Linked DNA regions of Homo sapiens. The protein of the gene in region 4 interacts with the protein of the main gene of each other region in a biochemical or structural test. Each region holds a gene or a part of one and is shown on either strand. Other genes may lie near its edges.

Region 1 (7,178 bases), on a different chromosome or scaffold from region 4:
CTCTGCCAGCCCTGAAGTTCCAAGGACTGGAAGGCCAAGGGCTCTCCCAGGCGGAGCCCTCAGTGGGCAGAAGCTTACATTCGGTCATTCAACAAGAAGGGGAGAACTGGGCCATGGAGGCGTTTGGACTGGGCGTAGAAAGATAAGAGCTGCCGAGGCAAACACAGGGAGGAAGAAACGTCAAGACACAGCAGAGGGAGCCTGGGAAGAGCACAGAGCATTCAGCTTCTGTGGGGCACAGGGAGAGATGAGGCCAAAAGAGCAGCCTACTGGCAAGTCCTGGGTTATGAAGGGCCTTGAGTTTCACAGGAAGGAAGGGGAGCAGAGGCTTTGTCCTGTCAGGGGCCACTGGTGGGTTTTCAGCAGGAGATGGGCCTGGGTAGATAGGTGTGCTGCAGAGATCATTCTAGAGCAAAGTAGAAGACAGCCTGGTGGAGGCAAAACAGGTAACAGGAAGGCTGGGAGGAGGCCGGTGAATTAATCCAGGAGAGGGGTGATGGAGCCCCAGAGAAGGAGCACTGCCCAGGTCCTGCCCACAGGCCAGCCAGCCCCTGAGGGGCACACATCATCCATCCGAGAACCAGGCCAGGCAAGCTCCGTGTGAGAAACTGGGCCACTACCCAACCAGAGTGTTACTCAGCCACAATGATGGTAATAACAGACGCCGGGCGGCAGTGCAGCTGTTCCCGCAGCTGTGGTTTATTTACTAACAGCGCATAGGTCTTTGTGTGCCACAGCCCCCAGTGCCTAGAATAGGGCCTAGCAGAACCAGTGCTCAGTAAACACTTGTCAGAGGAGATAACGCAAGCCAGGGAACTGGGCATGGGTCCTGAATCTGCCGCCCATCAGCTGTGCAACTTGTTGGCCCTCAGCCTAGCTGTGCCTTCATGTATTCCTCTAGAGGGCAGGAAAAGTCCTGTGGTTTCCAAGGCCACTTCTGACATGGCCAGGGCCACCTGGGCCTTTATTCAGCACATCCACTCCTGTCCACCAGGGGGCACTGAGCTCAGCCCCAGCAGCAGCAGGAGCCCTGGGAGGACCAGTGACTGGCGTCTTCTCAGTCCTTTCCCCTCCTGTCCCTGGAGCTGCCTCCCAGGTGGCACCAGGATAGACTGCCCATAACAGGAGGCCTTGAAGGTGAGAGGGGGAGAGCAAGGACCAACCCTCTACAGTCCCAAGGACCCCCACATACATCCCATCACAGAATTCAACAGCCATCCCCTCCCCTCAAACAGGAGGGAAGGTTAGTCCAGACAGGCTAAGTAACCTGCCCAAGGTCTCACAGCTGTGATCTAAGTGATAACAGCTGTAACAGCAACAGTGAACATTTATAGAGTGAACTCATTTAAGCCTCAACAACCCTCTGAGTTATTGTCTGCTTTTCTTCCCATTTAATGGATCTGGAAAGTAAAAGCTCAGAGAGCTGTCCTAAGTCACACAGTTCTTGAGCTCTGACCTCAGGTCTCGTTCCCCAGTCCCACCAGCCCCTCCATAGCACAGCCCTCCATACACCAGGGCAAGCCAGTCCGGGCGCAGTGGGGGGCCTCACCTGGATGTGCATCCTGGCACGGCGCAGCAGGCTCAGCGTGGTGTACCGGGCACAGTCGGCCCCCAGGGGCATCTGCTGCTTCAGCCGCTCCAGGCACCGCTTCAACTGGGCCCTCCTGTGGGGAAGAGGTCTGGAGGGCAGTGCCAGCCCCACCTTGCCGGCCACAGGAATGGCAGGGGAGGGAAGGCCAGAGGGCAGTGGCCCCTGGGGGCTGGCGCTGTCAGGGCAGGACTGGGACTCACCTGCGCTTCTCCAGTTCATTGTGCACTGACCTGCCAATGCCAGAGAGGATGAGGTGAAGGGGAATCAGCTACTGCCCATGCCCCAATCCCAGGGCCCCCAGTGGCTCAAGAGCCACTACAGATGTCTGCCCCAAACAAGTCCCCTGTGGAGAGCTCATGCTGGCCTCAGACACCAGAGTCCCCTGGCAGGGCGAGGGGAGTCAAAGACACACGGAGCCAAATGCTTAACAGAAGCCTGCCCAGGTGGGTATGAGGGCCCTAACAAGGGCGCCTGCCAGCTGGCCAGAAAGGACCTCCCAGAGGTGACAGCTAACTGCGGAAACAGATGTTTCCCAAGCCGGTACTGGAGGGAGGGGCATTCAAATAGGAGGGAACAGCATATGCAAAGGGCTGGGGAGAGGAGAGAAGAGGAGGAAGCCAGCGGGGGAGGTGAGTGGCCTGATGTGTGGGGTGCGGGAGTGCGAGTGGAAGCGGGACCCCAACTGCTGTTGGCAGTTCCCGGCACATCTAGAGGTGCTCAAGAAATAGTCCTTGAATGAATAGAAAGGTGTGAGTGTGTTTGGAGAGTGGGGAGATGGCAGGAGGGGTCTGAACGCTTCCTGGAGCGGGACACCTGGCCCAAAAGATGCAAGCAACAAGTGGGCAGAGGAGGGCCCGACCAGGGGCGGCGCCCACCCCCACCCCCACTCCCGCCGCCCCCGGCCTCCTCACCGCCCGCTGTCCTGCGCGCCAGGAGCCTGGGGGGGTCGCTTCTTCCTCCTGTGGATGGGGCCTGGACTGCGATGCGGGCACAGGGACGCATAACCATGCTCGGCCTCTGCCAGAGAGAGTCCCCGCCCGCGTCAGGCTGGGGCTGGACCTGGTCCCAGCGGCAGCCCCAGGCACAGCACGGTCAAGGAAAGGCTTTTGGCGCCAGGACCATTTCCCCCACCCGTCCCTGCTCTACCGCCCCGGGACTCCTCTCGAGTTGAGGGCGAGGCGCCCCGGGATTACTGTCCTAGGGCGGTGCATCCTTCAAGCTGGGAGCCAGGTCCAGTCCAGGCCCGTGTCAGCGAGGTCGCCGCCCGGAATTCAGCCAAGGGTCCTTCCTCACCTCTCTCACGGCGCTCCAGGAACTCGGCCGCCTGCAGCAGGACCTGGATGTTGCTGGCCAAGGGTTCCATGTCGGCGACAGCTGGCGGCGGGCCGGCCTAGGGTGCCGGCCGGAGCAAGCGGCTGCAGCACTTTTGTTACAAAGTAACTGACACGGTGCAACAAACACAGGGGCCCGCCCCGCCCCCGGGACGCCCCGCCCGCGGGAACGCCCAGCCCTTGGCTCCGCCCCTCTGGAACCCGCCACGGAGCCGCAGCCCACCCTCCGGCAGCCGCCCCGCCCCGAGTGGTCTCAGACTTTCCAGGGGCAGGTAAGGGCGCTGGCTCCAGGCCTGGCCCTGGAGCGAACCCTCAGGCTAACCGGTGCTGCTTCTTGCCCGCCTCACTCATCCACCCACGCCGGCTCATTGGCGTCTTTGATCTCAGCTTCCAGCCCCGTGCTAGTGACTAGCCCCCAACATAGCACGGCGCTCTGGGGGCCTGGTGGTCCCCTGAAAGCGCCGGGCCCAGCCGCTGCACGTGGGTGCCGCGGGGGCGGGGCCTCCGGCCGCCGCTCGCCCATTCGCACATGGCTTCTCAAGGATCGCTGTTGTCATCCTCGGGGCGGGGTCGGGGAGCCTCTGATGCCCTATTGGCTGGCGCTCTGCCCCGCCCTCTCCCGCCGCTGATCCACACGTTCGGGCGGGAAAAGAAGCAGGTTTCAAATTTGAAAACCCAAGCGATGGGGCGGGGTTGAGAGGGGAGCTGGGCCTCAATGCGCAGGCGCCGGCGGAGGGGCGGCGGACCCGGCTCCTGCCCTCCGGGGTCTGTCCCCAAGCCTGCCTGCCATCTGCCCCCGAAGGCCCCCGTGGGCCCCAGCTTCCTACTGTGTCGAATGGGAATAATATCTCGGCCCCCCTCCTCTTCTGTGAGGAAGCTGTTGTTGCTACGAAAACGTCAGTGGGGTAACAGCTTCCTCAGGCAGGCCATACCCTGGAGGCACGCGAAATGGCCTTTTCCGGGGCCTTGGGCTCTGGTATCCACGCAGTTGGGGTCCTCTCCTGTCACTGATGTCTCAGCTGTGTATGACTCAGGAGGTGACCTCCGTCTCTAAGCCTCAGGAGCCCTGCGACAGCGTTGAAGGATCAGAGCCAATGCCTCTGCGGTGCCCATGGCATGAAGGAGCCGCCCATCTCAAAGGCCAGTGCAACCAGACCGCGGCGTTTGCCTCCCAGGCAGCCCCTGCTTGCCTTACTCAGAGTCCATAAACCCTTCTTGCACCTGACTCTCCTAGCCGGCCGAAGGAGTGGCTGTGATGACTTCTAGCCTCAGCACCAGCAGGTGGGGCCACATCTGGGGACAGGAAGATGAACGCAGCTGTAGCAGGGTGGAGCATTGCTGCCAGCCACGGGCTGAGTCTGTGACTCCAGTAATCCCAAAATAGAGAGGGGAGGGAAGGTGGGAGGGATAGATGCTCTGTAAAGAGACAGTCCTGGTAAACACAAGCACATGTCAGTCAGGCCTCAGTTCCTTGGGAAAAATCTTTTTTTTTTTTTTGAGTCTTGCTCTGTTGCCCAGGCTGAAGCGCAATGGCTCAGTCTCGACTCACTGCAACCTCCGCCTCCCGGGTTCAAGCAATTCTCCTGCCTCAGCCTCCCAAGTAGCTGAGACTACAAGCGCCCACCACCACACCCAGCTAATTTTTGTATTTTTAGTAGAGACGGGGTTTCACCGTGTTGGCCAGGCTGGTCTCGAACTCCTGACCTCAGGTGATCCACCCACCTCAGCCTCCCAAAGTGCTGGGATTACAGGTGTGAGCCACCGTTCCTGGCCGGGAAACATCTTGAAGTTTCGGCCAGGCGCCGAAAAAAAATGAAGTTTCTCTAAGAGTTGCTCACAGCGGAATAACTGCCCTGTCTAGGCAGACGATCCATCTACCCAGCCGCCTGTCCTTAACTCACAAAGTATTTGCTGAGCTCTCACTGGACACCAGGCGCTGTGCTGGGGGCTGGAGGACATACGATAGGCAAAATCATACAGGGTCCCTGCCCTTGCAGAGCTCATAGGCTTGAGAGGGAAAGACACCAATACAGTCGCAGGAAGGCGGAGGTCCAGCTGGACAGGTCCTCACAGGGAGAGACCATGCCCCACAACACATTCTAAGGAACATTTGACCTAATTGGTGAGGCCAGAGAAGGCTTTACTGGGGAAATGGATGAAGAGGTGTTATCTAAGTATAGGAGAGATGAAAGAATTCTAGACAAAGGAACAGCACATGCAAAGGCCCTGGGGCTGAAAGGAGCATGGCAGGGGCGGTGTGGCTTACAGAGAGCAAATAGCCTGGTGCAGGCTGACACTGGAGAGGCTGCAGGGCCCAGAACATGCTGATGGGTTCCCCCAAACTCCCCCCTGCAATCAGCCATCTCTGAAGGAAGGAGCCGCAAGGGTTGTGAATGAATTTCCAATTTTATTTCACTAAAGTCAGCACCATGCAGTGCAGACACGAACCTACTCAGATGTCTGGGCCCTAGGTGGCCTGGCCTCCAGTCTGGGTGGGATAGGGGTGGGGAGGTTCTGAAGGAGGAGAATTTTCAGCAAAGGGAAAGAAGGAAGCATATGTGAGCTGAAGACATGGCCAGGAGGTGGTGGGAGTCGGGGTGGGGCTGCAGAGGGGCTGGAGGGCTCATGTCAAGGAGTTTGGACTTCATCCTAGGAGCTGCAGAGCGGTTTTGAGCCAGGGACAGCATGTGGGCTGGGGTCAAGGCCACCGGCCAGGCCAGACAGGAACAATACCTCCCCAGGAACAGGATGGGACGGGGCATGGGGGGATCCAGCCTGGACCAGCAGGGATCCTGCCCCAAGCCCTTGGATGTCCCCTGGGCCCCTGTGAGAAAATGCTAGAGCTAGTGGCCTCTAGGCACAGGACTGGACAGAGGAGCTGCAGTGCCCCCCCAGCAGTGACCAGCCCAGATCCTCTGCCCTGGAGTCCGCAGGGTCCTGCGCTTCGCCCTGTGACCTCCTGCCTCCACCAGCCCACTGTAACTGGGGTTCTGCTGCCTGTACTTGCAGTGCAGACTCTACCCGGGTCTATGGTCCTCTGGGCTCCAAGGACAGAGTCTGCATCTGTGCCCTGAGTGGAAGGGGAGAAGGGAGACCCCCCCGCCCCAGGCCTTTGTCCCAGTTAGGACCCCTTGAAGAGGGGAGCCAATCCTGGGCTCACCGTCCTCCTCCACTCCATGGACACTCCATGGTGCAGGAGGAGATGGCCCTGCGTTCCCCAGATCCCTTTCCCCTTCTCCCCTGCAAGGAAGAGTCATCGGGGGAGTCGGGAGCCTGGCTCCGACCCTGGAACCCTGCCCAGCCTCCTCCCTGGGCTGCCCGCAGCCTCCCCTCTCCCAGAGAGCAGCACTCCCCAGTCACAGAGCTAACCAGGTCACGCCCCCACTGAAGGCCTCATGCCCCCGCTGAAGGCCCACGCTCCCATGGCCTTCAGGACAAAGTTTGAGCTGGGCAGGGGACATGCCATGGCCTTGCCCACCTCCCTGCCTCTGCCATCTCTGCTCAATGTCACTTGCTCCAGGAGGTTCCCAGGCCTCCCTCCTTCAGCGCATTCTCCCAAGTAGCAGTGGGCCCTGCATCTCTCAGGGTCAGCCTCTTCCTGCAGACTACGACCTCAGCGACAGAGCAAACCAATGCCGAACAGGGGCTTGGCCAAGCCATAGGCAAGGGGTAGGGAAGGGCTGGTGGGCCTGTGTCTCCATGCCCATAGGATGTCAGAAGAAGCAGTCAGCAGACCCCCACACAGAGGCCACCTCTGGAACGCACCCCCCCCCCCCGCCAACCCCAGCTGTTGTGGCAGTGCAGCATAATGATCAGGAGTTGGGTGCCAGCCGGTCCCTCGCTTGGTGTCACAGGGGCTAAGCCAAGAGGCCAGCCCTGGCTAGACAGGTCTCAGAAGTGCCTGGCAGCCCCTGCTATCCGGGGAGGAACACTGCAAACAGGCCTCTGTAGGCTCAGTAGTATGGCCATTTTTTTTTTTTTTTTTTTTGAGGTGGGGTCTTCTGCTGTCACCCAGCTGGAGTGCAGTGACACAATGAGGGCTCATTGCAGCCTTGACCTGCTGGGCTCAAGCAATTCTCCCGCCTCAGCCTCCCAAGTAGCTGGGACCACAGCTGCATGCCACCATGCCTAATTTTTTTATTTTTTGTAGAGATGGGGTTTCACCATGTTGGCCAAGCTGGTCTTGAACTCCTGACCTCAGGTGATTTGCCCCCCTCAGTCTCCCAAAGTGTTGGGATTACTGGCTTGAGCCACCG
Region 2 (7,448 bases), on a different chromosome or scaffold from region 4:
CAAGAGGCAGAGGTTGCAGTGAGCCGAGATCATGCCATTGCACTCCAGCCTGGGCAACAAGAGCGAAACTCCATCTCAAGAAAGAAAGAAAGAAAGAAAGAGAGAAAAGAAAGAAAGAAAGAAAGAAAGAAAGAAAGAAAGAAAGAAAGAAAGAAAGAAAGAAAGAAGGAAAGAAGGAAAGAAGGAAAGAAGGAAAGAAGGAAAGAAGGAAAGAAGGAAAGAAGGAAAGAAGGAAAGAAAGAAAGAAAGAGAGAAAGAAAGAAAGAAAGAAAGAAAGAAAGAAAGAAAGAAAGAAAGGTGATGTGGGAGTGCTTCAAGTAAAAGAAAAATTATCCCTGCCATGATATTCTCTGTGCAATGCTTCAATATGCTTATCAAACAAGAGAACTATTGCTGAAAGAATTTTAGCATCTTTTTTACTAAGGCTTCTTTTTTCAATTTATTTGTTCAAAGGTTCCTGGATCGTGGGTTCCATTTTACAGAGATATGAAAGCCAATCCGATAGTGTTGCAGGTATTTACACTGCCTTTAAATTTGTACTTTTCTCTGGGAATGACAGGGGAGAAGCAGATGGTGACACCAGTGGGGTTTCTGATTTGAAATGACACAGTCTATATGATTAACCAGCAACAAGAGGCCAATCCAACCAGAATCTAGGACTAAGACTGAGTTTTGAGTGTTGGCAACAGGAAGAGTGTGCTGAAAGCACTCTGCCCAGGCAGAGTGTAGAGAAAATGGATTCATCTAGAAAATTATAAAAGACGAAATGAATATCACAGCTCTAGGGTTCAGACACATGCTCATTTGAAACAGTCCATAATATAGACTGATTGTTTTTTGTCAACTCATTATCCAAGAGCCAAGAAGTGCTGCATGAATGACCATCTGGAGATGAAGTTAAAGTGAAAGCCAGTGCTGGGAAACTAGTCACTCAACACCCAAACTGAATCCAGCATTTGTGGAAAGACCTCAGGCTGTGGCACAGATGAGAGTCAGGCGTTCTGACTGGCCCCACTATAGCCTCCAGGAGGGCTCTGTGGATTGGGGTTGGCAGCACTTCCTTAGATGGTGACCCTGCCTTCCTTCCTTTAGCCCACTTTCTTTCGCCCTCCTCTCTTCACGGAGTGCTTTCATCCTTCAACTAAAATGTCTGAAACAACCTTATTTTCCATCCTGGCAAGCTTGCACCATCCTCATTCATAGCTCATCTGGGAGCCTTCTTTTCCTTAAAGTAGGATTAATACAAGCGATAGCTTATTCCCTTTAGACTTCCAAGATCAAAAATAAATACGTACATACATGAAAATGGCAGAAAGAAGGAACCATGGGAGGGTCGCCTTTTCTTTTTCTCTTTACCACAGAACAGAGCGCAGGACTATAGTCTGATTGTCCTACAATCTATTCCATTTATTTTCACTCCCAATAGATGGTGTAATTTGGAAAAGAAAAGACACTCACGGGGCTTAACAGAGACCCAGTAGGAAACGCATAAACGTCTCCCTGCAGCACAATGATGCACTCGCTGCATCTCGGGGCTGCGGTACAAATGCTCAGTCCCTGCTTTGCTGAGCTGACCCGAGTGGAGCGGAGCGGTGGAGATTTCACCACGCTAACCCCGCTGGGCCTCGGCACCTCCACACAAGCCCCATTCCATCTCCTTCTTCCCATCACTTGGTCCATAGATCAACTGATTCCGTGCCTCGTCCCCCATATCCGTCCCTAAAACCTACCCTGCACTGATCCACCTTCAGATTTCCCACTGCTCCTCCGCAGAACCCACCCAGTGTGCATGTTTGTGCACATTTTGACAGAAAAAGTATTTCGTTGCATATGGATCAGCAACCCCTTCGCGGTTCTGCTTGCTCCCCTCCCCCTCCTCCCGCTGCTCCATTCACCTCCATCTCAGATCCCCCTCCTCCCCCCAGTCCGGTGGGGTAAAGAAAGCCTCCTCCAGGCAGCACAATGGCTGGCACTCTGAGGAAGCCGGACTCATCCCGTGCAGGCCGCATACACACTCCACTGCCCTTCCGGCCAAACAAGCCCGGACACGGGAGAGGGATGAGAGTCGGGGATGCCTAGCGGCGAGGAGAGAAGGGATAGGCAAAAGGGAAGAAGAGCGGGCTGTGATACCTCCTCGACGCCGTCAAACACTGCTCCCCGCATTCCAGAGCCCGGGGCCCACCCGACGGCAGCGCGCCCCGCCACCGCGCAGCCGCCCCGGTCCCTTCTCCCGCCCGTCTGTAGTAAAACAATCGCTCTCCCGGCGTCTGCGGCCGCTGCCAGCGGTTCTGACACTGCAGGAATGCGCGGTCTGGGGAAGGCTCCGCACTCTGGGGAGGGGCACGAGCGGGGTCGGGGGTAAGTTTTTAGGGACAAAGATGATCTTGGGGCGTTTACGGTGACTGGACCAGATAACGGTCCCGGGACGAGGTACCGACCCACTGCCCCAGCGCGATCGGGCGGCGTTCCCTTCTTCCCCCAGCCCCCATACCTCGCCGCCCTGCCTTCACACGCGCGCACACACGCGGGCACACACACGCGGACACACACACACACACACACACACACACACACACACCAGGCCTGGCTGGAGGGCCGATGCTGAGATGATACTGGAAGTGCCCATCATCCCACATCTCCAGGGCCTGGCGCGGCGTCCCAGCTGCGCTCCCTGAAGGGCTGGGCAGGAAGGCGACGGCCTCCCGTTGTTCCTTTCTAATCCCAGAATGGGACCAGGTGAGGGGAGCTGCGGCGACCCCAGACCGTCCTGTCAGAGAATCCCGGGGCCTCCTTACCACCCCCACCAGACCCCACCCCCAGCAGTGAGTCGGGTCCTAACTAAAGTCAACCCCCGCGACGGCACCTGTGCGGGTCCTGGCGGAGGGAGGCGGATCCCGGGGCTCAGCCGGACACCCCCATCCACGGGCCGCGGGAGCGGCCGGAGCGCAGCGCAGCGCAGCGGAGAGCCAGCCAGCCAGCCAGCCAGCGAGCGCTCCCCGCGCAGCTCCGGCGGCGCCCGGCTCCGCTCCCGCCTCCACCCCACCCCTTCCCCGCGCTCGTGCCCGGGCTCCGGGGGCGCGCCCGCGCTCGGGCACCCACCCAACTGGCACGCGCGGGAGCTGGACGTCATCCCCTCGTTAACATTCATAGCCTTCCTCCGAGCACGTGGGCTTGCCTTTATTAATATTTATGCATTTCTGTTTCTCTCCTCTTTAACATTGGCCTTTCTGCTTCCCTCATGAATATTCAGAAACTCCAAGATGAAAGCGTGCAATAACTACCAATATGGATACCTCGCAAAGCCTGACACTAGTTTCTGGATAAAATGCAGGCGATGGCTGCTGGCGGATGCCGGCAGACACACTCAAAGACCCTTTTGGACTTTCCGAGTTTCCCATTCTCCTCTACTGGAGGCTGAGGCGGGCAGGCCCAGCGACGTCTCCCAGCTCCAACTGGGTTCGGACCTCAAGCCAAAAATGAGGAGGCCGGCAGGAGAGCTTTTCTCGCCCAAAGATGCTGGGTGGGAGCTGGATCCAGCTGAAAAATCTGAGTGAGAAGGTTTCAGGCCCAGGAGGACTTGAGATAATACAGGAAAATTCAAGAGGCTGAAATGAGAAGGGTCCCTGGAGTCTTGTGAAAAATTATTAATTTATCTTGTCTACTGTGCATAGGCCTGTGCTTATAGAAGTTGTCAATAAAAAATCTAATAATTCACGAATACACACAACTAAGAGCACAAGAACTGTAATTATCGAAGGAAGGCACTGGAAAAAGCATGTCGGCTTGGAGAACCCCAAGTACTTTTGTCTGATGGCAAAGTACCTCTGGGCTGAACTGAGGACTTCAACTGGAAGGGGCAGGGAGCGTCTCTTTTGCTCGTTTATGCATTCATTCCACAGACATTTCAACCATGAGAAGGATGGAAACAGGAATAATGTCCCAATGAGATGAGAAGAAGCGTTGGCCTATTTGCCTTTGTGGGAGCAATAGACAGAGGATGTCTTCCTGTAAGAAATCATAAGGCCAGGCACGGTGGCTCACACCTATAATCCCAACATGTTGGAAAGCTGAGGCAGGAGGATCACTTGAGGCCAGGAGTTCAAGACCAGCCTAGGCAACATAGTGAGACCCCATCTCTATAAAAAAAAAAAAATTAGCCAGGCATGGTGGGCCCATCCTGGTAGCCCATCCTGGTAGCCCCAGCTACACTGGAGGATGAGGTGGGAGGATCGCTTGAGCCCAAGAGGTTGAAGCTGCACTCCAGCCTGGGCGACAGCAAGACCTTGTCTCAAAAGTAAATAAATAAATAAATAAATCACAAAGAGTAGCTGGTTAAAAGATCCCTAGATCTCCTTTCTTGGGATCATGCCCAGTTTTGTGACCTTGGGTTAGTTAACTTCCCTGTGGCTCATTTCCTCATCTGTAAAATGAAGAAAATAATAGTGCCCGCCGGGCGCGGTGGCTCACGCCTGTAATCCCAGCACTTTGGGAGGCCGAGGCGGGCGGATCACGAGGTCAGGAGATCGAGACCATCCTGGCTAACACGGTGAAACCCCATCTCCACCAAAAATACAAAAAATCAGCTGTGCGTGGTGGCGGGCGCCTGTAGTCCCAATTACTCGGGAGGCTGAGAATGGCGTGCACCCAGGAGGCGGAGCTTGGAGTGAGCCGAGATTGCGCCACTGCACTCCAGCCTGGGTGACAGAGCGAGACTCCGACTCAAAAAAAAAAAAAAGAAAGAAAATAATAGTGCCCCACTCTATTGTGGCCTGTTGTGGGATTAAAGGAGTGAATATGAGTAAAGTACTTCCAGGTTTATTAGAAGGCACTATATGTATGTATGTGTGTATATATATACACACACACATATATATGTCATATATATGTCTCATATAGATGTCCCATATATACGTCTCATATAGATGTCCCATATATATGTCTCATATAGATGTCCCATATATGTCTCATATAGATGTCCCACATATATGTCTCATATAGATGTCCCACATATATGTCTCATATAGATGTCCCACATGTATGTCTCATATAGATGTCCCACATGTATGTCTCATATAGATGTCCCACATGTATGTCTCATATAGATGTCCCACATGTATGTCTCATATAGATGTCCCACATGTATGTCTCATATAGATGTCCCACATGTATGTCTCATATAGATGTCCCACATGTATGTCTCATATAGATGTCCCATATATATGTCTCATATAGATGTCCTATATATGTGTGTGTGTATATATATATGTGTGTGTGTATATATATGTGTGTGTGTGTATATATATATGTGTATATATATGTATATATATATATGTCTTGGCTAATTTGAGGCCATCTTTTGTCTAGATCTTCAGAGCATGGGACAAACAGATTTGAGAGAAGCTTGTGAAGTACTGAAAGTGATAAAGAACTTGGTCTTCAGCTGGTGACCTTGTTAGTTATCCTCTCTGTACCTCAGTTTTCTCATCTGTAAAATGGAGATGCCAATATCTGCTGTTGGATGCCAATATCTACTACAAGGTTGTTGTTATGCATATTAAGTAATATAATGCATGCAAAATGCTTAGCACAGTGCCTGGCATATAATAAGAAACCAATTAGTGGATTCTGTGGTTATTTTTGTGAGGCTATGAAGAAACTGAAAGCTGAGGACAAGTAGCCTAGGCTAGGTACCTAGGATGAGAAATCCCTGAACATGAGCCCAGTTATTCTTCCAGCAAACACTTATTTTATTGTAGTAAGATATATATAACATAAAAATTACTATTTTAACCATTTTTAAGTGTACAATTCACTGGTATTAAACACATTCACATTGCTGTGTAACCACCACCACTATTCATCTACAGAAATTTTGTTATCCAAACAGAAACTCTGTATCCATTAAACACTAACTCCCCAGTACTCCCTTCCCCAGCCCCTGGTAACCACTATTCTAATTTTGTCTCTAAGAATTTGACTATTCTAAGTACCTCATGTAAGTGTAATTATACAATATTTGTTTTTTGTATCTGACTTATTTCACTTAGCACAATGTTTTCAAGGTTAATCTATGTTGCAACAATGTCAGAATTTCTTTTCTTTTTAAGGTAAATAATATTCCATGGTATGTATATACTACATTTTGTTTATCTATTCATCTGCCCATGGACATTTGGATTGTTTCCACCTTTTGGCTATTGTGAATAATGCTACTAATCTGTCATGGGATTAGAGTGAGAAAGAAAGAATAAAAAAATAATGCTGCTGTCAACATCGGTGTACAAATTCCAGCAAGCATTGGTTGCATTCCATGACCTAGGCTAGAAGCTGGGGAGCTAAAAATGAAGGCATGCTTTCAAGAGGTTCCATGTTTAGTATGTTGATTTCCAAACTCTGCTGCTTAGAACCTGCAGTGGATTGAATGGTATTTTCCTAAAATTTGTGTCTACTCAGAACCTCAGAATGTGACTTTTACAGATGTAATCAGTTATGATGAGGTCATACTAGATTCGGGTAGGCCCTAAATCCAATGACTGGTGTCCTTATAAGAAGAGGAGAGGAGGCTGGGCATGGTGGCTCACACCTGTAATCCTAGCACTTTGGGAGGTGAGTAGATCAACTGTGGTCAGGAGTTCGAGACCAGCCTGGACAACATGGCGAAACCCCATCTCTACTAAAAATTAAAAAAAAAAAAAAATTAGCAGGGTGTGGTGTCACATACCTATAATCCCAGCTACCTGGGAGGCTGAGGAAGGAGAATCGCTAGAACCGGGGAGGCGCAGGTTGCAGTGAGCTGAGATCATGCCACTGTACTCCAGCCCAGGTGACAAAGCAAGACTATGTCAAAAACAAAAACAAAAAATACAAGAGGAGAGCATGCATAGGAAAGGAGGCAGAGATTGGAGTAATTCAGGTACAAGCCAAATGACACCAAGGATTGCCAGGAACCACCCAAAGCTAGAATGAGGCAAGAAAAGATTCTTCCCCAGGACCTTCAGTAGGTAGCATGGCCCTGCTGACAGCTTGATTTTGGACTTCCAGCCTCTAGAACCATGAAACCATAAATTTCTATTTAAAGATCATTTGTCGTGGCAGGCCTAGGAAACTAGTACAAATTTTGGTAGTAGAAAGTGGGATGCTGCTGTAACAAATATTTAAAAATGTGGAAGTGCCTTTGGAACATCGTAATGCAAAGAGGCTGGAAGAAGTTTGAGACACATGACAGAAAAAGCCTATATTGCCCCAAAGAGACTGTTGGTATAATTATGAATATTAAGGGCAATTCTAGTGAGGCTTCAGAAATGAGGAGACTGTAGAGAAAGTTTCTACGGTCATAGAGAATACATATATTATTATAACAAATAGGAATATGAATGTTAAAGGTGATTCTGGTAAGGTCTAAGATGGAAATGAGGAACTGTTGTTAGAAACTGAACAAAAGACAAACT
Region 3 (3,901 bases), on a different chromosome or scaffold from region 4:
TATAAGAACAAGTGAACAATTGGGAACTGGGTACCCAAGTGAGTGAAATATTCTGTTCCTTAGTTTTCCTTAATGCGACTTTTAATTAGCTTTCCCATGCTTTAGATACTAAATTTATGAAGAATAAAAGTTAAAAGCCAAATGCTAATCTTGTATCACTGCTTGTCTTGTATACTACTTGTCCTAGGATTTCTATATTACAACTAGGAAGATATGAATTAAAACCACCAAAGAGACTATAACCATAAATAACTTATGACATATGTTCCATTATTAATTGAAAACTCATAGTTAATAAACTTTGGGAAGGAAACTTTCAGGCACATGGCATGGAATATGAAGGTGATGTTCTTTTTATAAATTTTAAAGGTAGCATATATTATACAAATTACTCAAGAGTTTACAAGCAGAAAAAAAGGAGAAAAAATAAAATTCACGCGCACCCTATATTAACATGTAATTCGTAGTGAAATGTGTGAAATATAAACACATGACTTTCACTTATTCATTTTCACTTTACGCTTTTTAATTGAAATTAAATTAGTCACTTAACATACATAATGCAGTGTTTGTTTTCCAGTCTAGTAGCTTTTCAGCATTCAGTTTTGTGGCTCATGGGAAATGTTACTTAGCATCAAGATGTGGTTTGATGAGTGAACAATGTCAGTATCAACTGTACTTAACAGAAGACAGAGGGGCTGGGGTTAATCTGCAGCTAACAACATATAAAAATAAAAACAAACACAGACCCACAATAACATCAACATGCATTATTAGGCAAAGATCCAAAATTAACCCAACCCACACAGATTTCTTCTAAGCTGAGATTACACATGGAAACAGATACTTTATCAAGATCCATAGCCATAGTAGTAAGGTTCATCAGGGCGGAATCCATATGCTGTGGCAGGGCGTCCAAGAATGCCAACTGGTTGGCCAAAGCCATCCATTCCAAGGCTAAAAAAGAAAAAAAAGAATGATAAGCTATGTTTTTCATCACACATCCACAATGCAGATTAAGAGGCCTACATTTTTATACCACCAAGATTCTCTTCCTAGCAGGGATAGTGATTTAGGTGGATATCATTAACTTTTTTTTTTAAGGTTAATAGAGCCATTAAAAGTGTATATAATAAAATACTTCTAACAATGTGTGTTAAAAGTATGGGAAACCTCTGTCAGTAGGTACTATTTGAAACAAAGTGGAAGAATCAAATCAGAAAAGTTTTATTTAATAAATTACTTATATATGGCTCTTAAGCAAAAATATGAAAAGATTTTACATGCTAGCAATGATCAGTAATATATTGCTAGGGAATGATAAAAATAAAACTGTAGTAAAGTGAGTTTTGCTGTTTATAATGTCTTTTCATATGAAGATACAGGACTAATTCCACTTTTAGTAAAAACATGTGTTTGAGTTATATCAGTGAACTCTCATGCAGGGCCAAATCATACCATAAGCCTATGATTAAAAGAACAAGATAAGGAATTTGACAAAATTTGAAAATTAGTCAGATTTGATCTGCAAATCCTTCCTCTGATTCCTCAATGCAAACAATTACAAAACATATCTATTTCTTTTGAGTGACAGCAAGACAATTACAAATTTTGGTTCAACTTATTCTATGGGAATAACAGAAACCCAAAGATAACCTTCAGAGTTGTAAAGATAGCTTGAAGTATGTTAAACTTCATGATTATTATTTTAAAAAAATTACTTGTTGGTCTATTAATACATTATTTAGAGGAAAATCTGTTCTCCAAAGTCCTTTTTAAAGGTCAGGGAATTATCCAACACTTAGGAAAATGATAAAGTATTTATTTTGCCAGGCAGAACATGGTGGCCTTAACATGCTCATGCATAGCTCATGCAGTGAATGCTAGTGAGCTTGACTTCCAATCAATGGACACCATTTGTAATGCAGAAATGTAAGCTTTGGAAAAATAAAACATATTTAAATGATTTAAGATTTAAGTTTGCACTACATGAGATGGAAAGATAATTTTCCCTCAATAGCAAAAACTGAATGTGATGAAAAAATATATTCACATAGGCACTAACTCCCTGTCACACTCAGAGTGAGATTAAGTTGACACACTTTAGAAGTAACTATTAAAATGTTAAGGTTTTAAATAAATGTGTGAATGCGTGTGTGTGTTTGTGTGCACGCGTGCTTGTGTGTATTAAGATGGAACTAAAGAGTAAATGTAAAGAGCCAAAATACATATAACACATACTGGTCCAGTGACTCTGCCCTTTAGGAGAATGGAAGTTCTGAAATACAAGTTTCAGGTTAGCATTTGTACTGAGCGATTCTGGACAAAATTTGTTGTTTTGGGGTCCTTCTATATAAAAACTCTGTCTATAGTTTCTCAAAGTTGGTTGAAATTTTTAAGTCTACATTTTATTTTGAAATGGTAAAAATATAGGCACTTTTTCTAACTTTGATCTCATGGGAAGAGAGACTAAATTTTGTGATGAGGAAATCAAGAGGTAGCTTAAAAGATGCTTCAGAAATTAGTGGAATCAGTGAACTAAGAGACACTGGTATCAGCTTAAAATTAGAGAAGTTATTGAAAACTGTTCTCTGCAAGCACTAAGGCTAACAAGTAATCATGTATCTAAAGAACTCTCAATTATATAACTGTTGATTACATAGCTTGGATTTCAACTTGTTCCTTCTTCATCTTTTGCTTATTACCTGTCTTCAACCAGTCCTTATCTTTTTTAGCAACTCCTCTGAGGCCAAATAGCAGTAGACTTAGGTTAAACTCAAGTTAATCTTATGCTTGTTTCTCAATCTAGGGGCTATGGCAAGATCTATTTCAGTAATATGAAAACAAGAGGCATATGTGGGACAGTGAGGAAACATGCAAAGGCACCTTCAGAGTATCTCACAGACGACTTGTTAGCAATATCACTGTAATTCTACCTAAAAGAAGATGGTCCTCAGAAGGGAGTTCACCAGTCATTGGCACAGAACAAGGAGCGTCTCAGCTACAACGCTGGTTGTAGCAACCTAGGCAATTGCGTGGTGATCTGGTAAGCTATAACACCATAAGGAATATCTGGCCTTTTTGCAGTTTGGTCCTCAATCAGGAAGGGAATTTAACATTCTCAGAGTCTGAGGCCATTCTACATTCAAGTTGCAAAATTCTCCCCCTTTTTTTTATTTCTACGACTAATAGGCAAACTATTGATCACTGTAATTTCCCATGTAATTTGCCAACAGGTTAAATAATAAACTTAGATATTACCTAATCCACCTGATGGTTATAACTTTCATTGTACATTAACAAATGGATTTTTCTTTTTAAAATATGTCATGCACATTGTTGATAAAAACCTGCAGTCCCAAGTCAGTGAAAGACTGGCCCTTGAGCACTGATGAGTCTGAGTTTCTGAACCTGTAAATCTCTGGTCTTGAACAGTATGGTCTTTAGGTTACTATGGTAAAGATCTATTTATGTAGTCAGCAGTTCACCCAGAGACATCTGTGTGTATTACAGTGTAGAGGATATCATTTAATTTTTCGAATTTCTATATACAAATATCGTTTTGGAAAAAAGGAATAAAATTTGAAACCAAACTCTAAAATGATCTTTTCTGGAATTCTCCATTATGTATCACAGATGAACTTGCTGTTTAAAGCAAAAAATATTTAAAACATTTATGATCAGTTTGGAGAGTACTTTGACATAGGTCCTAGGTCCTTTTGTATTATGAAAAATCAACTATATCTACATACATTTTTAATTAAATTCACTGTGAAACATAACAGTTTGTTTCTTTAAACTCTCATTTGCTTCTTTCTAATATAGTGGGGGAAATCAGGCTTTCTAGGATGCTAAAACCTGGAGACATTCTTTTGGAATATGTAGACACTTTACTTTTTTC
Region 4 (7,034 bases):
GAAAAGTGTCTTGGTTAAGAGTATTGAGTATTTGTAGTATTATTTTTAGTGAGATAATTGAAATTTTAAAATAAATACTTATGGGCAAGGACTTTAAAATGACCTTATTTAAAAAGTTTTCTCCTTTACTATTAAATTAACTGTGGGCTTTTACATTTTTTCTTAGATCGATAAAGAGGAAGTTTCACTTCGAAGAGTTATTGGTGCCAAAAAGGATCAGTATTTCTTAGACAAGAAGATGGTCACGTAAGCATTTTTCTTTTTTTTAAAAAAACTGAATATGTACTTAAATAGAGATGGGGTATTGCTGTGTTGGCCAGGTTGGTCTCGAACTCTTGGCCTCAAATGATCCACCTCGGCTTCCTAAAGTGCTAGGATTACAGACATGAGCCACCACGCCCAGCCAGCATTTTTCTTTTTCTCAATACGGAGTCTTGCTCTGTCGCCCAGGCTGGAGTGCAGTGGCGCAGTCTCGGCTCACTGCAACCTCCACCTCCCGGGTTCAAGCTATTCTGCTGCCTCAGCCTTCTGAGTAGCTGGGATTGCAGGCAGTCACCACCACACCCGGCTACTTTTTGTATTCTTAGTAGAGACGGGGTTTCACCATGTTGGCAGGCTGGTCTCGAACTCTTGACCTTGTGATCTGCCTGCCTTGGCCTCCCAAAGTGCTGGGATTAGAGGCATGAGCCACTGCGCCCAGCCCGCAATTTTATGATTTCCTTACAAAAGAGTAAAAAGTATTCTTTTACCTGCTTCATATATGAGGAATATTTGCTTCATCTTCAACAAGTCAACATATAGAGGATAAACATAAGAATCAGAAAGTTCTGAGGATGATACAGATGGTTTAATTACTGATCTTTCCTCCCTAATGCTATCAACCAAGGGGCTACTCTACTCATTGCTTAATGGTGCTTTAAAATTATTTATCGGAAAGTAATTTCATTGTTTGTCAACAGGAAAAATGATGTGATGAACCTCCTTGAAAGCGCTGGTTTTTCTCGAAGCAATCCTTATTATATTGTTAAACAAGGAAAGGTAAAACAATTGTATGTCCTTTTTAAGTAGAATTTGTTTTCTGAGTAATTCTTGAGTGATGAATTTGGTTTATTGATTTGAGTGGTTAAGCTGAAGCAAAAATGGCCATATTCTTTTACATGGCCATAAAGTACCAAATAGGTCCATTGCATGTTGAGATGGAAGTATTTCAGCATATTAAGTGGATCTTGTTTTCCTAGTGACTGGTATTACTTACTGAGGTGAAAGTATGGGAAGACATTATTGGCTTATGAATGTTGCAATAATTAAGAATATTGTAGGAATTCTATAAAAATCACATTTGAAAAACTTTCTAAAATTAATATTTTGTGTTACCTAATTATTTATCACAATTAAAATACTGAAAAGCTAACATTACCAGAAATCTGCCATTTTGCCACATGTTATTTTCCCTAATAGGGATTATGTTTTTACATTTTTTCAGCAGCCAAACTACAAACTTTTTTAGCTGATTGTTCTGCTCTCTTCTCATATACTTTCACTTTTTTTTTGGACTAGGGAAAATTCTCAAAGAATATTCACTTATTTTATACTGTAGGCCTTTTTTTCTAGATATGTATTGGAAAGTTAGCATTTAGAAGAAGTGATTAGGAAGAATATGGAGTTTCAGTTTTAGAAAATGTGTTACTGGAAGAACACGTTTTTTTCCGATTTAACTATTTGTGGGAGATAAATTTTTTTAAATGGAGGCTGATTTGAAAGAGCACTTTTCTGAGATCCGTCTGCTGTCAATCTAGGCCCTTTTACTTCATTTCAGTTTCTGCCCGTATGCCATCCTTGATTGCCTCATCTGAAAGCATTGCCGTCCCCTCAACCCTATGTGCTTTATTTCCTTAATCTGTTTTATTTTTCTTCATAACACTTACACTGTTAGGATAGTACTTATTTTCTGTCTTTTTCCATTAGAATGTAAGCTCCATGAGGGTGGGACCTTTTCTGCTTTGTTTGCTCTTTTCCAGTGCCCAGCAGTGGCACATATGTTGTAGCCATTTGAAAAATAATTTTTAAGTGAGGAAATTGCATGAACCAATATGTATAATTGGAGCGTTCAATAATGAGGATCTGAAGGATGATTCTTTGATGTAGATACTTTTGATAGACCTATTTTCGTAGAGATAATTTCAATTTTTTAATGCAGTGATATCATTTTTGACATTTAGGGATACTTGTTATATATTAAGTTGCATGGCACTTAAGTTGTACCATTCTCTCTATATTTAAAGCATACCATTTTTGTCATATCATTAGCCTTCTGTATCTGTAGGTTCCACATCTGCAAGTTCAGCCAACCATGGATCAAAAATATTTAAAATAAATAAAATTTTAAAACAGTACAATAAGAAATAATACAAATTTAAAAATACAGTAAAACTATTTACATAGCATTTACATTGTATTATTATAATTAATCTAGATATTAAAGTATATGGAAGGATGTGCATAGGTTATATGCAAATACTATGCCATTTTATATAAGGGACTTGAGCATCCTTGGATTTTGGTACCTGCAGGGGGTCCTAGAACCAATCCCCATGGAAACTGAGGAAGAATTGACTTTTAATATATTATTGTAGCTTTAAAAAAAAGTGTAGTCAGTGATGGTTTTCCCTTATAAAAATACTTTGTTTTTTGAGAATGGAGCTCATCTTTTATACCTTATCATATTGACTAAGAAAAAGATGGTGGTGTGAGATACTCCTTCACTTGTTAGCCCTATTCATAAAGGAGAGTTATGACCGTAACAGTTGTATTTGGATTTTATTTGGTAAATTTCATTTAAGTAAAGGAGACATAGATATGTAGGCATGCGTACTATACAAATGACATTAGCCAAATCATAATCTGTTTAAAACTTGGCATGTCCCAAATTCAAAAGTCTGAAATACAGAATGCTCTACAATCTGAAACCTTTCGAGTGTGGACATGACATTCAAAGGAAATGCTTGTTGGAACATTTTGGATTTCAAATTTTTGGATTTGGGTTGCTCATCTGGTAAGTATAAATGCAAATATTCCAAAACTTGAAAAAATCTAAAATCTGTAACACTTCTGGTTTCTAACCATTTTGCATAAGGGATACCCAACCTTCATGTGTATTAAAAACCTTTCAACGTGGAGTTCTTCTTCTTAAACGGAGGCTACAGCTATGTAATGATTATTTTTCTAAAAATTTTAGATCAACCAGATGGCAACAGCACCAGATTCTCAGAGATTAAAGCTATTAAGAGAAGTAGCTGGTACTAGAGTGTATGACGAACGAAAGGAAGAAAGCATCTCCTTAATGAAAGAAACAGGTAAAATAAATGTGATTCTGCCTTATTTTTTTGTTGCAAATTACTGTTTTTGTGACAGAGTGGCTCCATGATGGGAATATAGTAGGTGTTTAGTATATGACAGCATTAGATAATGCTGTTATTAATAAAAATTGAGAATCCATAACACCAATGATGTTAGTAGCTTTTAAAAATATTGTGGAAACGCACACTGACTTTTTTTTTTTTTTTTTTTGAGATGGAGTCTTGCTCTGTCACCCAGGCTGGAGTGCAGTGGCGCGATCTCTGCTTATTGCAACCTCTGCCTCCCGGGTTCAAGTGATTCTCCTGCCTCAGCCTCCCTGAGTAGCTGGGATTACAGGTGCCCACCACCATACTCAGTTAATTTTTGTATTTTTAGTAGAGACAGGGTTTCACCATGTTGTCCAGGCTGATCTCGAACTCCTGACTTCAGATGATCCACCTGCCTTGGCCTCTCAAAGTGCTGGGATTACTCATGAGCCACTGCGCCTGGCCGGCACACTGACTTTTTAAAAGGAAGCTTAAACTGAGGCCCTTACTACATGTTATAAAAGAACCAGTGTCACCATGTGTAAATTTGTTCTCTGGTGCTTTTCATAATAAAGGATCTTAACCCATTTATGCCTAGCATTCCATTATTGGAATCCTAAGCTTGTGGATGTTACTTATATTCTACTGCTCAAGGTCATTGCCAAGGTCTGATTTTTCACAGAAAAAAATTTGCAACCTCTGGCATAAATGGGTTAATTGCTATTTTAGTATTTTAAATTGGGTTACCACATCACATCAAAGAAATAATGCTACAGTTCTTAAAAATAATTTAATTCAAGGTATATTTAAGAAGTGATATTACATAAAAATCTTATTCAATTCTTCCACCTCTCTCCCCATTTCTTTTAAGAGGGCAAACGGGAAAAAATCAATGAGTTGTTAAAATACATTGAAGAGAGATTACATACTCTAGAGGAAGAAAAGGAAGAACTAGCTCAGTATCAGAAGTGGGATAAAATGAGACGAGCCCTGGAATATACCATTTACAATCAGGAACTTAACGAGACTCGTGCCAAACTTGATGAGGTAAAATATTTACCTGTGACACTTAAAATCAGATTAATTTTGTTTTTATGAATTTGTTAAACTCAGGCCATAATTACACTTTTCAGTGATTTTAAATAGAAACTTAAAAAAAACCTCTCAATGAATTTATTAGTCAGCAAGTTTTTTTAGTTCAAGGAAATTAGCCATGTGGTCCTTGCTATATAGTATTATCTGAAATATAATCAGATGGTGGTATTAGGCAGACAAGATGAGAGGAAAGCCATTTTGAAGGCTTCTTGTAGTTGTAGTATATCCTAAACTACACATTTTGTACAAAAATTTAGTGCTTCAGTTTTCTAGTTTAAAATCATTTTTAAAATTTTTGTAGAAAATTTGAGCAGTTACTTTTGGTTTATTTTAATAGAAAAATTTTTATTAGATGTTATGAAATATTTAGTAATTACAAAATGAGTTAGATATGATAAGTTGTTTTTTTTCTTAGCTTTCTGCTAAGCGAGAGACTAGTGGAGAAAAATCCAGACAATTAAGAGATGCTCAGCAGGATGCAAGAGATAAAATGGAGGTAAGATTATAAACAAGGTTCATGTTAACTTACTTTTTACTTTTGAGACAGGGTCTTGTTCTGTCATCCAGGCTGGAGTACAGTGGTGCCATCATGGCTCATTGTAGCCTTGACTTCCTGGGCTCAGGCAATCCTCTTGCCGCAGCTTCCTGAATAGCTGGAGCACAGGTGTGTACCACCACACCTGTCTAGTTTTTAAATATATTGTAGAGACAAGGTCTTACCATGTTGCCCAGGCTGGTCACAAACTCCTGGGCTCAAGTGGTCCTTCTGCCTCAGCCTCCTGAAGTTTTTTTTTTTTTTTTGGAAGACAGGGTCTCACTCCATTGCACAGGCTGGAGTGCAGTGGTGAGATCACAGCTCACTGCAGCCTTGATCTCTCAAGCTCAAGTGATCCTCCCACCTCAGCCTCCTATTTTTGTTATTTTTTGAAGAGATGGAATCTCAGTATGTTGCCCAGGCTGGTTTTGAACTCCTGGGTTCAAGGAGTCCTCCCACCTGGGCCTCCCAAAGTGCTGAGTTTACAGGCATGAGCAACCATGTCCAGCCATCGTATGTTTTTGACCATAGTAAACCCTTTTGTACCAGAATTATGGAATGATTACACAAGGGAGAGTTAGAGGAATTGAATATTGAAAGGACAGAGTATTACTAAACATTAAGTGAAAGAGAATTAATGGTGTCACAATTCTGCTATTGTACTTCTAATTGCCTTATTTTCTGTTTAATACTTTTGAATAGGATATCGAACGCCAAGTTAGAGAATTGAAAACAAAAATTTCAGCTATGAAAGAAGAAAAAGAACAGCTTAGTGCTGAAAGACAAGAGCAGATTAAGCAGAGGACTAAGTTGGAGCTTAAAGCCAAGGATTTACAAGATGAACTAGCAGGCAATAGTGAACAAAGGGTAAGTTAAAATGCTAAAAATGAAAGATGTGAATGTTCAGGTGAGTAGCAACTGTAGAAGACAGCCCTTTCTGTGACTGGTGTGTGTTGGAATTTTTTTTTAAGCTTTGCTACGTTAGCATAATTTGTACTCAAGTAACAACTTGGTACTGTCCCTTTGTTTCTTACATTAAAAAAGAGTTTCATGTTACAGGTGGGTTTTCTCATGAAGTTTTTTTCCTGAGAAAACATTTATGCTAGACCTAAATTATGCAAAAAATTTAAAGCAGTTTGCATTTTTACTTTGTTTACAGAAACGTTTATTAAAAGAGAGGCAGAAGCTGCTTGAAAAAATAGAAGAAAAGCAGAAAGAACTGGCAGAAACAGAACCCAAATTCAACAGTGTGAAAGAGAAAGAAGAACGAGGAATTGCTAGGTCTGAGAACTTTCACCAACACTTTAACTTTCTACATCATATTATGTAAAACTAGGTTGTCCGAGGAGCTCAATTATATAGTAGCTGCTTTTTACACTTAATTCTTTTTGTATCTTTTTGAAAAATGGCTTTATGTTTCTGTGTGCAGTTGACATTATTGGTTGCAATTAAACTTGGTTATTATTCTCCTTTTCATCCCATTTGCTTCTATTTTGTGTAGATTGGCTCAAGCTACCCAGGAAAGAACGGATCTTTATGCAAAGCAGGGTCGAGGAAGCCAGTTTACATCAAAAGAAGAAAGGGATAAGTGGATTAAAAAGGAACTCAAGTCTTTAGATCAGGCTATTAATGACAAGAAAAGACAGATTGCTGCTATACATAAGGATTTGGAAGACACTGAAGCAAATAAAGAGAAAAATCTGGAGCAGTATAATGTAAGAACTTCTATAGCTGCTTTGTAAAAATCTTTCAGAAGAGATAAATGTGTTTAGTTTTATCTACTTCAAGTTTTCTTTTTAAATAAGTCTACATGTTGCTCTTAAAATATATGACAGATACTTATTTAGAAAAGGCCTGCACAGTTTAATATACATATAGTTCTTTTTTAAAGAATATTCATGTCATTGAGCCTTTATGTAGATTAAGTATATTAAAATGTATGTATGTATTTTTAATTTTTTTGAGATAGGGTCTTGTTCTGTCACCCAATCTGGAGTGCAGTGGTACAAACACAACTCACT

The links.
Region 1: the proteins of SMC3 (region 4) and MXD3 form a complex in vitro, tested with the Homo sapiens proteins (one study listed by BioGRID).
Region 2: the proteins of SMC3 (region 4) and FEZ1 form a complex in vitro, tested with the Homo sapiens proteins (one study listed by BioGRID).
Region 3: the proteins of SMC3 (region 4) and KIFAP3 form a complex in vitro, tested with the Homo sapiens proteins (one study listed by BioGRID).

Annotation. Positions count from the first base shown.
Region 1 is NC_000005.10:177,308,877-177,316,054, forward strand, and holds the start of MXD3 (max dimerization protein 3), read right to left. Parts: upstream 3,023-7,178; 5' UTR 2,955-3,022; coding exon 2,885-2,954; intron 2,609-2,884; coding exon 2,503-2,608; intron 1,822-2,502; coding exon 1,792-1,821; intron 1,665-1,791; coding exon 1,550-1,664; intron 1-1,549. UniProt on the Homo sapiens protein: Transcriptional repressor. Binds with MAX to form a sequence-specific DNA-binding protein complex which recognizes the core sequence 5'-CAC[GA]TG-3'.
Region 2 is NC_000011.10:125,493,258-125,500,705, forward strand, and holds the start of FEZ1 (fasciculation and elongation protein zeta-1), read right to left. Parts: upstream 3,009-7,448; 5' UTR 2,864-3,008; exon of another isoform or gene 2,579-2,863; intron 2,359-2,578; exon of another isoform or gene 1,957-2,358; intron 1-1,956. UniProt on the Homo sapiens protein: May be involved in axonal outgrowth as component of the network of molecules that regulate cellular morphology and axon guidance machinery.
Region 3 is NC_000001.11:169,920,825-169,924,725, forward strand, and holds the end of KIFAP3 (kinesin-associated protein 3), read right to left. Parts: intron 2,279-3,901; coding exon of another isoform or gene 2,242-2,278; intron 958-2,241; coding exon 852-957; 3' UTR 505-851; downstream 1-504. UniProt on the Homo sapiens protein: Involved in tethering the chromosomes to the spindle pole and in chromosome movement. Binds to the tail domain of the KIF3A/KIF3B heterodimer to form a heterotrimeric KIF3 complex and may regulate the membrane binding of this complex.
Region 4 is NC_000010.11:110,577,669-110,584,702, forward strand, and holds part of SMC3 (structural maintenance of chromosomes protein 3), read left to right. Parts: intron 1-166; coding exon 167-246; intron 247-959; coding exon 960-1,038; intron 1,039-3,235; coding exon 3,236-3,353; intron 3,354-4,254; coding exon 4,255-4,430; intron 4,431-4,893; coding exon 4,894-4,974; intron 4,975-5,715; coding exon 5,716-5,880; intron 5,881-6,172; coding exon 6,173-6,294; intron 6,295-6,514; coding exon 6,515-6,728; intron 6,729-7,034. UniProt on the Homo sapiens protein: Central component of cohesin, a complex required for chromosome cohesion during the cell cycle. The cohesin complex may form a large proteinaceous ring within which sister chromatids can be trapped.